Linked DNA regions of Homo sapiens. The protein of the gene in region 1 purifies or fractionates together with the protein of each later gene. This does not show direct contact. Each region holds a gene or a part of one and is shown in the gene's direction. Other genes may lie near its edges.

Region 1 (3,500 bases):
AGTGGAAGCCAATTAACAGACGATGTGGGCTCTCTTACGGAACTGAACAGTGTTTACATTGTTCAGGAGTACATGGAGACAGACTTGGCTAATGTGCTGGAGCAGGGCCCTTTACTGGAAGAGCATGCCAGGCTTTTCATGTATCAGCTGCTACGGGGGCTCAAGTATATTCACTCTGCAAATGTACTGCACAGAGATCTCAAACCAGCTAATCTTTTCATTAATACGGAAGACTTGGTGCTGAAGATAGGTGACTTTGGTCTTGCACGGATCATGGATCCTCATTATTCCCATAAGGTATGTATAGAAAGCCAGCTGAGACAGATCTTTAAACTGATACACCTAATCAGGAATAGGTACTTATATTTTCTTTGTATATTGTGGCAGAATTTTTAATCTTATTAAACTTTACATAGTGCCTTTTTTCTGAAACAAGTCTCTCTGTTTGAAATGAAGGTGGAGTGGGATAATTAAATACAAATTTCTAAAAATACATGGTTATTATAATGAAATTTTAAAGTGTATGGTTATTTATTATAAATGAAATTCTCCCTTAGTTATTTAAAAGTGGAATATACTCTTCTTTCTTTGGGACAGAATTGTGGTAAGAGGGGATGCTATTTCAACTTTAGGTCTTTTGTTTTTGAGACAGAGTCTCACTCTGTCACAAAGGGTAGAGTGCTGTGGCGCCATCTCGGCTCACTGCAACCTTCATCCCCTGGATTCAAGCGATTCTTGTACCTCAGCCTCCCAAGTAGCTGGGATTACAGGTGCGTGCCATCATGCCCAGCTAATTTTTTTGTATTTTTAGTAGACAGGGTTTCACCGTGTTGGCCAGGCTGGTCTTGAACTCCTAGCCTCCAGTGATCTGCCTGCGTCAGCCTCCCAAAATGCTAGGATTACAGGTGTGAGCCCCCATGCCCAGCCTTTTTTTTTTTTTTTTTAAGTTTTTAGTGACAAGATCTTGCTGTGTTGCTCAGGCTGGTGTCAAACTTCTGGGCTCAAGTGATCCTCTGGCCTCAGCCTCCTGAATAGCTGAGGCTAAAGGTGCATGCCAGCACACCCAAGCTTATGTCTTCTTTTGTCTCTTTGAGCCTGTACTATTCAGTTCTGCTTTGTTTAAACTAAATTTAGCTTGAAATCTAAATTCACATAAACAATTGGTAATAAGTATAGCCAAAAAGATCTCACAGCAACTTCGTCTTAGATAGCAAATTGCCTTCATACAAGAATTTAATATTTTTCAAGCTGAACCTTGGTCTTTTAGTTTGGAAATGAAATCTTATGTGGGACCCTGATGTTTAAATTAGAGAGGTGGAGCTGCTTTGGTTGTAAAGAACCCCTGGGAGCCCTGCTTTGTTAGCTTTCCACAGTACATGCCTAAGACAAATCTTCATACATGTTGTTTCACGTTAAGATTATTTTTATTTTTATTTATTTATTTTTTTGAGACTGAGTTGTGCTCTTGTCACCAAGGCTGGAGTGCAATAGTGTGATCTCAGCTCATTGCAACCTCCGCCTCCTGGGTTCAAGCAGTTCTCCTGCCTCAGCCTCCCAAGTAGCTGGGATTACAGGCGCCCGCCACCACGCCCAGCCCACATTAAGGTATTTTTACTTGGGCCAGGTACAGTGGCTCACACCTGTAATCTCAGCACTTTGGGAGGCTGAGGCAGGCGGATCACCTGAGGTCAGGAGTTTGAGACCAGCCTGACAACATGGTGAAACCCTGTCTCTCCTAAAAATACAAAATTAGCTGTGCCTGGTGGTGCATGTCTGTAATTCCAGCTACTCGGGAGGCTGAAGCAGGAGAATCCAGGAGGTGGAGGTTGCAAAGAGCTGAGATTGCGCCAATGCACTCCAGCCTGGGCAACAGGAGCAAAACTCCATTTCCAAACAAAAAAGATATTTTGTAGAAAATGAGTTCTAGGCTGGAAGCGCGGTGGCCCCTGCCTGTAATCTCAGCACTTTAGGAGGCCGGGGCAGGAGGATCACTTGAGGCCAGGAGTTTGAGACCAACCTGCGCAGTGGCTCCTGCCTGTAATCTCAGCACTTTAGGAGGCCGGGGCAGGAGGATCACTTGAGGCCAGGAGTTTGAGACCAACCTGGGCAACACAGACAACTTTTTTTTCCTAGAGAAAAAGAAAAAGAGATGAGTATTACACTGACGACGTCCACAGTGAAATATTGTGGGTAGAGCACTGTATCCACAGTGAAGTATTGTGGATAGAGCACTGAACTAATAAGACTTATACTATATAAAATTGACTCCATTTCTACATCCAACTAGCTATATGACTTGAAGCAGATCTCACTCTCTCAGTCATCACACCTATAAAATGGAGTTAATATCTACCATCACAATCTCTCAGGGTAGTTTTGAGGATGAAATAAGGCAATATATGTGTAAGGTTTTGTAAGGTGCTTTGTAATTGTAAAGTAGTTGAATAGGTGATGAATAGGATTTATAGTAGAGGTCATTAAGGAGGTAGACATTGGTTTATAAGTAGCACCTCTGGTGCTCTTCCCTACTGTTCTGACTTGAAGCATACTTGCTCTTTGATTATCTCAAGACTGAGTGTAAACCAGCTCGTCTTCTGAAAAATGCTTTGAATGTGTGGCCTAGAGTTATATAATTTTTTTTTTTTTTTTTTTTTTTTTAAAGACAGGGTCTTGCTCTTTGCTCACTGCAACCTCTGTCTCCTGCGCTTAAGTGATCCTCCCACCTCAGCCTCCCAAGTAACTGGGACTACAGGCGTGTGCCACCATGCCAGGCTAATTCTTGTATTTTTAGTAGAGGCAGAGTTTTACCATGTTGCCCAGGCTGGTCTCAAATTCCTGACCTCAAGTGATCCACCTACCTCGGCCTCCCAAAGTGCTGGGGTTAAAGATTAGGATTTTTTTTTTTTTTTTTTTGAGATGGAGTTTAGCTCTTGTTGCCCAGGGCGGAGTGCAGTGGCACAATCTCGGCTCACCGCAACCTCTACCTCCCGGGTTCGAGCGATTCTCCTGGCTCAGCCTCCCAAGTAGCTGGGTTTACAGGCATGCACCACCACACCTGGCTAATTTTGTATTTTTAGTAGAGATGGGGTTTCTCCGGTTGGTCAGACTGGTCTCGAACTCCCGACCTTGGGTGATCCGCCCACCTTGGTTTCCCAAAATGCTGGGATTACAGGCATGAGCCACCACGCCTGGCAAATTAAGGATTCTTTAATCAAGTTGTAAGTACTGTTCTTCAGCTAAAGTAAAAAAAGTATGTTTTTTGTTTCTTTTATAGGGTCATCTTTCTGAAGGATTGGTTACTAAATGGTACAGATCTCCACGTCTTTTACTTTCTCCTAATAATTATACTAAAGCCATTGACATGTGGGCTGCAGGCTGCATCTTTGCTGAAATGCTGACTGGTAAAACCCTTTTTGCAGGTTAGTATTTTGTGGGGGGAAAAATTTTCCCAAAGAGAAGTAATTTTGCATTTTATCTCTGAAGCAAGATTCATATAAGAT
Region 2 (3,500 bases), on another chromosome or scaffold:
ATACCATTCTTGCTGTCAGGTTTTTTTAGGATTAAACAAATGACAAAGACTGTGGGGATGGTGTGTGGCATACAGCAGGTGATGGACTCTTCTGTATCTCAGGCTGCCTTCCTGCCCCTGAGGGGTTAAAATGCCAGGGTCCTGGGGGCCCCAGGGCATTCTAAGCCAGCTCCCACTGTCCCAGGAAAACAGCATAGGGGAGGGGAGGTGGGAGGCAAGGCCAGGGGCTGCTTCCTCCACTCTGAGGCTCCCTTGCTCTTGAGGCAAAGGAGGGCAGTGGAGAGCAGCCAGGCTGCAGTCAGCACAGCTAAAGTCCTGGCTCTGCTGTGGCCTTAGTGGGGGCCCAGGTCCCTCTCCAGCCCCAGTCTCCTCCTTCTGTCCAATGAGAAAGCTGGGATCAGGGGTCCCTGAGGCCCCTGTCCACTCTGCATGCCTCGATGGTGAAGCTCTGTTGGTATGGCAGAGGGGAGGCTGCTCAGGCATCTGCATTTCCCCTGCCAATCTAGAGGATGAGGAAAGCTCTCAGGAATAGTAAGCAGAATGTTTGCCCTGGATGAATAACTGAGCTGCCAATTAACAAGGGGCAGGGAGCCTTAGACAGAAGGTACCAAATATGCCTGATGCTCCAACATTTTATTTGTAATATCCAAGACACCCTCAAATAAACATATGATTCCAATAAAAATGCACAGCCACGATGGCATCTCTTAGCCTGACATCGCCACGATGTAGAAATTCTGCATCTTCCTCTAGTTTTGAATTATCCCCACACAATCTTTTTCGGCAGCTTGGATGGTCAGTTTCAGCACCTTTTACAGATGATGAAGCTGAGCCTCGAGGGATGTGTGTCGTCAAGGGGGCTCAGGGCTTCTCAGGGAGGGGACTCATGGTTTCTTTATTCTGCTACACTCTTCCAAACCTTCACTCACCCCTGGTGATGCCCACCTTCCCCTCTCTCCAGGCAAATGGGAGAGACCCTTTGAAGTCAAGGACACCGAGGAAGAGGACTTCCACGTGGACCAGGTGACCACCGTGAAGGTGCCTATGATGAAGCGTTTAGGCATGTTTAACATCCAGCACTGTAAGAAGCTGTCCAGCTGGGTGCTGCTGATGAAATACCTGGGCAATGCCACCGCCATCTTCTTCCTGCCTGATGAGGGGAAACTACAGCACCTGGAAAATGAACTCACCCACGATATCATCACCAAGTTCCTGGAAAATGAAGACAGAAGGTGATTCCCCAACCTGAGGGTGACCAAGAAGCTGCCCACACCTCTTAGCCATGTTGGGACTGAGGCCCATCAGGACTGGCCAGAGGGCTGAGGAGGGTGAACCCCACATCCCTGGGTCACTGCTACTCTGTATAAACTTGGCTTCCAGAATGAGGCCACCACTGAGTTCAGGCAGCGCCATCCATGCTCCATGAGGAGGACAGTACCCAGGGGTGAGGAGGTAAAGGTCTCGTCCCTGGGGACTTCCCACTCCAGTGTGGACACTGTCCCTTCCCAATATCCAGTGCCCAGGGCAGGGACAGCAGCACCACCACACGTTCTGGCAGAACCAAAAAGGAACAGATGGGCTTCCTGGCAAAGGCAGCAGTGGAGTGTGGAGTTCAAGGGTAGAATGTCCCTGGGGGGACGGGGGAAGAGCCTGTGTGGCAAGGCCCAGAAAAGCAAGGTTCGGAATTGGAACAGCCAGGCCATGTTCGCAGAAGGCTTGCGTTTCTCTGTCACTTTATCGGTGCTGTTAGATTGGGTGTCCTGTAGTAAGTGATACTTAAACATGAGCCACACATTAGTGTATGTGTGTGCATTCGTGATTATGCCCATGCCCTGCTGATCTAGTTCGTTTTGTACACTGTAAAACCAAGATGAAAATACAAAAGGTGTCGGGTTCATAATAGGAATCGAGGCTGGAATTTCTCTGTTCCATGCCAGCACCTCCTGAGGTCTCTGCTCCAGGGGTTGAGAAAGAACAAAGAGGCTGAGAGGGTAACGGATCAGAGAGCCCAGAGCCAAGCTGCCCGCTCACACCAGACCCTGCTCAGGGTGGCATTGTCTCCCCATGGAAAACCAGAGAGGAGCACTCAGCCTGGTGTGGTCACTCTTCTCTTATCCACTAAACGGTTGTCACTGGGCACTGCCACCAGCCCCGTGTTTCTCTGGGTGTAGGGCCCTGGGGATGTTACAGGCTGGGGGCCAGGTGACCCAACACTACAGGGCAAGATGAGACAGGCTTCCAGGACACCTAGAATATCAGAGGAGGTGGCATTTCAAGCTTTTGTGATTCATTCGATGTTAACATTCTTTGACTCAATGTAGAAGAGCTAAAAGTAGAACAAACCAAAGCCGAGTTCCCATCTTAGTGTGGGTGGAGGACACAGGAGTAAGTGGCAGAAATAATCAGAAAAGAAAACACTTGCACTGTGGTGGGTCCCAGAAGAACAAGAGGAATGCTGTGCCATGCCTTGAATTTCTTTTCTGCACGACAGGTCTGCCAGCTTACATTTACCCAAACTGTCCATTACTGGAACCTATGATCTGAAGAGCGTCCTGGGTCAACTGGGCATCACTAAGGTCTTCAGCAATGGGGCTGACCTCTCCGGGGTCACAGAGGAGGCACCCCTGAAGCTCTCCAAGGTGAGATCACCCTGACGACCTTGTTGCACCCTGGTATCTGTAGGGAAGAATGTGTGGGGGCTGCAGCTCTGTCCTGAGGCTGAGGAAGGGGCCGAGGGAAACAAATGAAGACCCAGGCTGAGCTCCTGAAGATGCCCGTGATTCACTGACACGGGACGTGGTCAAACAGCAAAGCCAGGCAGGGGACTGCTGTGCAGCTGGCACTTTCGGGGCCTCCCTTGAGGTTGTGTCACTGACCCTGAATTTCAACTTTGCCCAAGACCTTCTAGACATTGGGCCTTGATTTATCCATACTGACACAGAAAGGTTTGGGCTAAGTTGTTTCAAAGGAATTTCTGACTCCTTCGATCTGTGAGATTTGGTGTCTGAATTAATGAATGATTTCAGCTAAAGATGACACTTATTTTGGAAAACTAAAGGCGACCAATGAACAACTGCAGTTCCATGAATGGCTGCATTATCTTGGGGTCTGGGCACTGTGAAGGTCACTGCCAGGGTCCGTGTCCTCAAGGAGCTTCAAGCCGTGTACTAGAAAGGAGAGAGCCCTGGAGGCAGACGTGGAGTGACGATGCTCTTCCCTGTTCTGAGTTGTGGGTGCACCTGAGCAGGGGGAGAGGCGCTTGTCAGGAAGATGGACAGAGGGGAGCCAGCCCCATCAGCCAAAGCCTTGAGGAGGAGCAAGGCCTATGTGACAGGGAGGGAGAGGATGTGCAGGGCCAGGGCCGTCCAGGGGGAGTGAGCGCTTCCTGGGAGGTGTCCACGTGAGCCTTGCTCGAGGCCTGGGATCAGCCTTACAACGTGTCTCTGCTTCTCTCCCCTCCAGGCCGTGCATAAGGCTGTGCTGACCATCGACGAGAAAGG
Region 3 (3,364 bases), about 11 Mb from region 1:
CAGATGGTTTAATGGGTCTATCTGTTCTAGAGTTTTCCTAATAGGTCTGAAAATACCTCTAATCAAAATTATTTACTTGAGAAAAGTATTCAGAATAGTTCCTAAAAATTAAGAGTATATCTTCTGACAGCTTGCTTGAAACAGTCTTCACTGTTGAATTCAGGCTCATGGTCTTAAGTAGACTTCATTATAGCATTTGAGAAACAGGAGTGACACTTATAGTCATACCAGAGTAAACTCAGATATGATAGATGTATTATAGCAAATTTCTGGTATAAAAGGATAAATAATCTGTATATGAGTATTAATCCAATATTCTTAAAACTTCAGTATTTTACTTAAAAGTACTTTTTGTCATTAAAATTATAGCAAAGGTAGAATGCACTTGTTTAATATACTCTCATGATTCTTTTGCAGGGTGTTCATTTAGAAGAAAGCAACACTAATGATTCAAACAGCTTCCTGAATTTTAATTTTGTGTTGTCTCACAGAAAGCCTTATCATAAATTCCATAATTCTAATTAATTTACCAAGATAATGTAATTACATTTGGTTTTGTAAGGTATACAGCAGTAATCTCCTATTTTGGTGTCAGTTTTTCAATAAAGTTTTGATTATGGGCAAATCCCCTCTTTTTCTTTTTTTAAAATATATTTGAGTATGCCATACATTTATATATATGGTGTATATGAATTTGGTTTAAACATTTTAAAATTTATTCTGATTAGTTTGTGTCTTTTTTTTTTTTTTTGAGAGAGAGAGTCCTGCTCTGTCACTCAAGCTGGAGTGCAGTGGTGCGATCTCGGCTCACTGCAACCTCCGCCTCCCAGGTCCAAGCAATTCTCTTGCCTTGTCCTCCCAAGTAGCTGGGATTATAGGCACACACCACCATGCCTGGCTAATTTGTGTCTCATTTTCAAGAGTAGAAACCCTAAATATTTTATTTTCATTCCTTTTCCAAATTGCTATGAATGGGATTAAAGGATTACAGATGTAAAGTCTATTATTTGTGAATTCTAAATGTAGTTCTGCTGTTGTACCTGTGGAAACATCTTAAAGAAGTACATATTTTGCACGTCCTGCACGTGTACCCCAGAACTTAAACTATAATTAAAAAGAATAGTTTCAAAAAAATACATATTGATCACAGTGTAATGCCTTGGATTTATGTGGCCTTGCTATACTACTATATAATTTAGGACAGTAACTGCTAGCTGGGGTGTGAGTTATTTATTGGAAGCTCCTTTTTAGGGTAGAAAATTTGAGGAGAAATCTGAAGTGGCATGATTTACCCGCAGAAGTCCTGGTTGGGGATAGTAGATGGTGTTGAATTCTCTGGCCCAGATAGGTGAGCACTCCTGACTACAGATGTGTGTTGAGTGGTTCTGGTGCCTGCCTCATTGTCATTTTCATAGTTTATGAAGTAATCCTGGGGAGCTGAGACGGGGAGTGTATCCACTCACTATACAACTCCTCATTGGACTAGGAAGATAGTCCAGTTTCTACTCTGCTTCTATTTGATTTGTTACCTTGTGGCAGGTATTTAAAACAGGCATTTCCTATCAACAGGTAGGCCTCTAATGTGAGCAACTGATCCTCTTACATACTGCTTAAATCAGAGAACTGTTGCACAAGAACTAAAGAATGATGGCAAGTTTGGGGTGTATATAGTTGTATAAGGAAGGCTGGGCGCAGTGGCTCACACCTGTAATCCCAGCACTTTGGGAGCCTGAGGCAGGTGGATCACCTGAGGTCGGGAGTTCAAGACCAGCCTGACCAACATGGAAAAACCCCGTCTCTACTAAAAATGCAAAATTAGCTGGGCGTGGTGGTGCATGCCTGTAATCTCAGCTAACTCGGGAGGCTGAGGCAGGAGAATTCGCTTGAACCTGGGAGGTGGAGGTTGTGGTGAGCCAAGATCGTGCCATTGCACTCTAGCCTGGGCAACAAGCACGAAACTCCGTCTCAAAAAAAAAAAGAAAAAAAAAATATATATATATACATATATATGTAGATGACCCAGAGATTCTCAGACTTTTAGTTTCTGACATCATTAGAATCTCAGTAATTTTTTTCAGGCCATTCCTTGGCCAAAAGAAATACCTAACAGTTACATTTATTAACTTATGTTCTAACAACTCTAGTAGCCATTTGAAAAAAACTATACACACACAAGAGCAAAAGTGATGTGATGATTTTTTTAAAAATAGAGACAGTGTCTTGGCTCTATTGCCCAGGTTGGAGGGTCATAGCTCATTGTGACCTCAAACTCCTGGGCTCAAGCAAGCCTCCCACCTCTGCCTCCTGAGTAGCGGAGACTTCAGGCACGTGCCACCACGCCCGCCTAATTTTTTTGTAGAGATGGGGCTCTGGCTGTGTTGCCCAGGCTGTAAGGAACTCCTGGCCTCAGGTGATCTGCCTTGGCCTACCAAAGTGCTGGGATTACAGGTGTGAGCCACTGTGCCCAGCCTGATGTGATAATTTTTATCTCATCCTTAAATCATCACAGTTACTAATGGAATGTGTGTGCCTTTTGGGCTCCATACAGTTTCTCAAAATTGAAATCAGATTGGACACCATTGTCCTTATTTCTTCCACATTGATTTTTGCATGGTGCTTTTTGTCATAGCAGTGGCTCCAAACCCAGCTTCACAAGGATAGGATGCCATCAAAGGGAATGTAGTGCCATATCATATTGAAACTGAACTTCCTGGAACTAGTAGTTTATACAAAAGATGCGTCAGTGTCAAGTGTTTTTCCTGAGGTACTCCAAGGCACTTCAGCTTGCACAGTTTAGGATACTTGGCTATAAGGAGAGACAGTGGGATGACAGCTTTTGATGAGAAGGAATCAAACCTATGATGAGGACTAATCTAACAAACCCTGAAAATTCCCTTGGAAGTATTTTTTAAAAAAGGATTATACTTTAAAGACCACATCTAAGGGCTGGGCGCGGTGGCTCACACCTATAATCCCAGCAGTTTGGGAGGCTGAGGCAGGCAGATCACTTGCAGTCAGGAGTTCGAGACCAGCCTGGCCAACACAGTGAAACCCCGTCTCTACTAAACATACAAAAATTAGCTGGGCGTGGTGGTGTACACCTGTAGTCCCAGCTACTTGGGAGGCTGAGGCACAAGAATTGCTTGAAACCAGGAGGCAGAGGTTGCAGTGAGCCAAAATCGCACCACTGCACTTCAGCCTGGGTGACAGCGTGAAGCTGTGTCTCAAAGAAAGAACACATCTAAGGATTTACATGGCATTGGGAAACGAATGGTGTATTAAGTTTTACTTTATTATTAATCTAGATGGTATTACTGGTTTTGAAAAGTGCTGAATAGGACACCAGGACTTTCCCAAACTTCAG
Region 4 (2,880 bases), on another chromosome or scaffold:
CTCTGATACAAAAGCTTTCAAGTCCTTGAGCCAATAATGTACACTTCTAGGATTTTAGTCTAAAGAAGTCATCAGTGGCCAGGCATGATGGCTCATGCCTGTAATTCCAGCACTTTGGGAGGCCAAGACGGGTGGATCGGGAGGTCAGGAGATCGAGACCATCCTGGCTAACATGGTGAAACCCCGTCTCTACTAAAAATACAAAAAAATTAGCCAGGCTTGGTGGTGAGCGCCTGTAGTCCCAGCTACTCGGGAGGCTGAGGCAGGAGAATGGTGTGAACCCAGGAGGCAGATGTTGCAGTAAACTAAGATCGTGCCACTGCACTCCAGCCTGGGCAACAGAACGAGACTCTGTCTCAAGAAAAAAAGAAAAAGAAAAAGAATTCATCAGTGACATTTGACAGAATATATCTATAAAAATGATTTATTATGGATATAAAGAGACCAAAAAAGAGAGATCTGTATGTCCAACAGGAAGGTGTCATTGAATAATCCATGCACATCAGTAAATAGAAAATTGTGCAGACACTAAAAATTGTGTTTTCAAGGAATAATGAATGATATGAGAAAATGCTATTATGGCAAGTGAAAACACACAGGATACAACATCGTATAGTCACAATGATCTCAATTTTTAAATCATATTTAATAGTATTTTAAAATAAGAAAGAAATGCATCAATGTTAACAGTCCTTCTTTCTAGGCCACCACCAGAAAGGGATTATGGGTAATCTCTCTCACTCTCAAAGTATTTCTGTATTTCCATGTTATATATAGAATCATATACCTCCCACAAGCAGAAACTATAACTTTAAGAAAAATGGTTTTTCAAACTAATTTAAGGTTGGCGCGTCAATGAAATTGGGGGGGATCCATTTTTGAAATTAGTTAAAATAAATCCTCTTTCTCTGTGGGCAGCAATATGGCTTTTGTAAGGCAACACTCAGTGAGAAGCTTGGTGGGGCAGAGGTTGCAGTGACCTGCATGGTGTTCCAAACACAGGTAACAGCTCCGTGAATATTCTTGCCTACACCTTCAGAATACAATGACCCCTTCACATTTATGCAGTGCAGTAGTGATGACAGGACATTTGCTCTCCTGTGCTTCTGAATCTCACAGTATGAAATAACACTGGGGTATGCGGAATCATCAACAAATGGAAGGATATTTTAGCTATGCCTTTCCCTCCCACGAACTAGTGACTACAGGGAAGAACCATCTTACTGTGTAGTTGACAAAGCCACCTTTTTATTTGTGGGAGGTGGGAGTGGTTTTCTGAGTTGCAGAGACCAGGTGGCCAGATCTACCTGTTAGCTCCCAGTGGCTGCAGCTTCAGATGACAAAGAGGGTGGCACTGCTGGGCAAGGGTGAGCCATAGGTGGGGTGCTTTTACTCATTGGACATATGCGTGTAAGTCCACCATCACAAAGACAATCCTAGTGAGGCCGGGGCCAACATAGGCCAGTCACCCCTCCTTGTAACCTTGATGACAATCCCTTGTACTTGGGTAGGTCCTTTCTTGCTAGACTCTTTGCAAATAAAAATGTATAATGTGAGGAAATTGGGTGCCAGTGCCACCTGGGCCTGTGGGTTGTCTTGCCTGGGAGGAGGAAGCAAACTAACTGAAGGAAATGGTCCTTTTTCCAGCCCGTGAGCTCACAGCCCCAACCAGAAGGTGCCAATGAAGCAGTCCCCACACCCGTGGTGGACCCAGATGCACCTCCGTCCCCTCCACTTGGCGCACCTGGACTCCCTCCAGCTGGCTCACCCCCAGACTCCCATGTGTTACTGGCAGCTCCTCCAGGACACCAGTTGCACCGGGCGCACTACGACCTGCGCCACACCTTCATGGGTGTGGTCTCATTGGGGTCACCCTCAGGAGAAGTGTCGCACCCCCGGAAAACACGCACAGTGGTGCAGCCTAGTGTTGGTGCTGCTGCTGGGCCAGTGGTTCCTCCATGTCCGGGGAGGATCAGACACTTCAAGGTCTAGGCTAGACATGGCAGAGATGAGGAGGTTTGGCACAGAAAACATAGCCACCATTTTGTCCAAGCCTGGGCATGGGTGGGGGGCCTTGTCTGCTGGCCACGCAAGTGTCACATGCGATCTACATTAATATCAAGTCTTGACTCCCTACTTCCCGTCATTCCTCACAGGACAGAAGCAGAGTGGGTGGTGGTTATGTTTGACAGAAGGCATTAGGTTGACAACTTGTCATGATTTTGACGGTAAGCCACCATGATTGTGTTCTCTGCCTCTGGTTGACCTTACAAAAACCATTGGAACTGTGACTTTGAAAGGTGCTCTTGCTAAGCTTATATGTGCCTGTTAATGAAAGTGCCTGAAAGACCTTCCTTAATAAAGAAGGTTCTAAGCTGAATGTGGTCATGCTTATTGCGACTTCATCCCAGCTCCCCTCACATGCATAGCCTTTTACCCCAACAAACACAGTGTCCCTAATCAAAATCAAAGTGAAAAGAGAACCAAAAGAGAACAAAAACCTGCTGTATTGCCAGATACAGGAAAAAGTGAGACTAGGATCTTTCCACAACCCATAAGATGTGACCATTTCTTTTTTTTTTTTTTTCTGAGACGGAGTCTTACTCTGTCACCCAGGCTGGAGCGCAGTGGCATGATCTTGGCTCACTGCAAGCTCCACCTCCCAAATTCAAATGATTCCCCTGCCTCAGCCCCCTGAGTAGCTGGGACTACAGGTGCGTGCCACCACACCCAGCTAATTTTTTTTATTTTAGTGGAGACAGGGTTTCACCATGTTGGCCAGGATGGTCTTGATCTCCTCAACTCATGATCCACCCACCTCGGCCTCCCAAAGTGCTGGGATTACAGGCGTGAGCCACCGCACCTGGCCAAGATATGACC

What was found. Proteins that work in one complex are often made in the same cells at the same time.
Region 2: the proteins of MAPK6 (region 1) and SERPINA1 purify together in Homo sapiens (affinity purification with mass spectrometry; 2 studies listed by BioGRID and IntAct, with this or other methods). This does not show direct contact.
Region 3: the proteins of MAPK6 (region 1) and RPS27L purify together in Homo sapiens (co-immunoprecipitation; 2 studies listed by BioGRID and IntAct, with this or other methods). This does not show direct contact.
Region 4: the proteins of MAPK6 (region 1) and AHSG purify together in Homo sapiens (affinity purification with mass spectrometry; 2 studies listed by BioGRID and IntAct, with this or other methods). This does not show direct contact.

Annotation. Positions count from the first base shown.
Region 1 is NC_000015.10:52,046,719-52,050,218, forward strand, and holds part of MAPK6 (mitogen-activated protein kinase 6), read left to right. Parts: coding exon 1-297; intron 298-3,274; coding exon 3,275-3,419; coding exon of another isoform or gene 3,420-3,424; intron 3,425-3,500. UniProt on the Homo sapiens protein: Atypical MAPK protein. Phosphorylates microtubule-associated protein 2 (MAP2) and MAPKAPK5.
Region 2 is NC_000014.9:94,378,603-94,382,102, reverse strand, and holds part of SERPINA1 (alpha-1-antitrypsin precursor), read left to right. Parts: intron 1-961; coding exon 962-1,232; intron 1,233-2,491; coding exon 2,492-2,639; intron 2,640-3,462; coding exon 3,463-3,500.
Region 3 is NC_000015.10:63,151,114-63,154,477, reverse strand, and holds part of RPS27L (ribosomal protein eS27-like), read left to right. Parts: intron 1-417; coding exon 418-446; 3' UTR 447-3,364.
Region 4 is NC_000003.12:186,618,939-186,621,818, forward strand, and holds the end of AHSG (alpha-2-HS-glycoprotein isoform 2 preproprotein), read left to right. Parts: intron 1-918; coding exon 919-1,002; intron 1,003-1,647; coding exon 1,648-1,992; 3' UTR 1,993-2,380; downstream 2,381-2,880. UniProt on the Homo sapiens protein: Promotes endocytosis, possesses opsonic properties and influences the mineral phase of bone. Shows affinity for calcium and barium ions.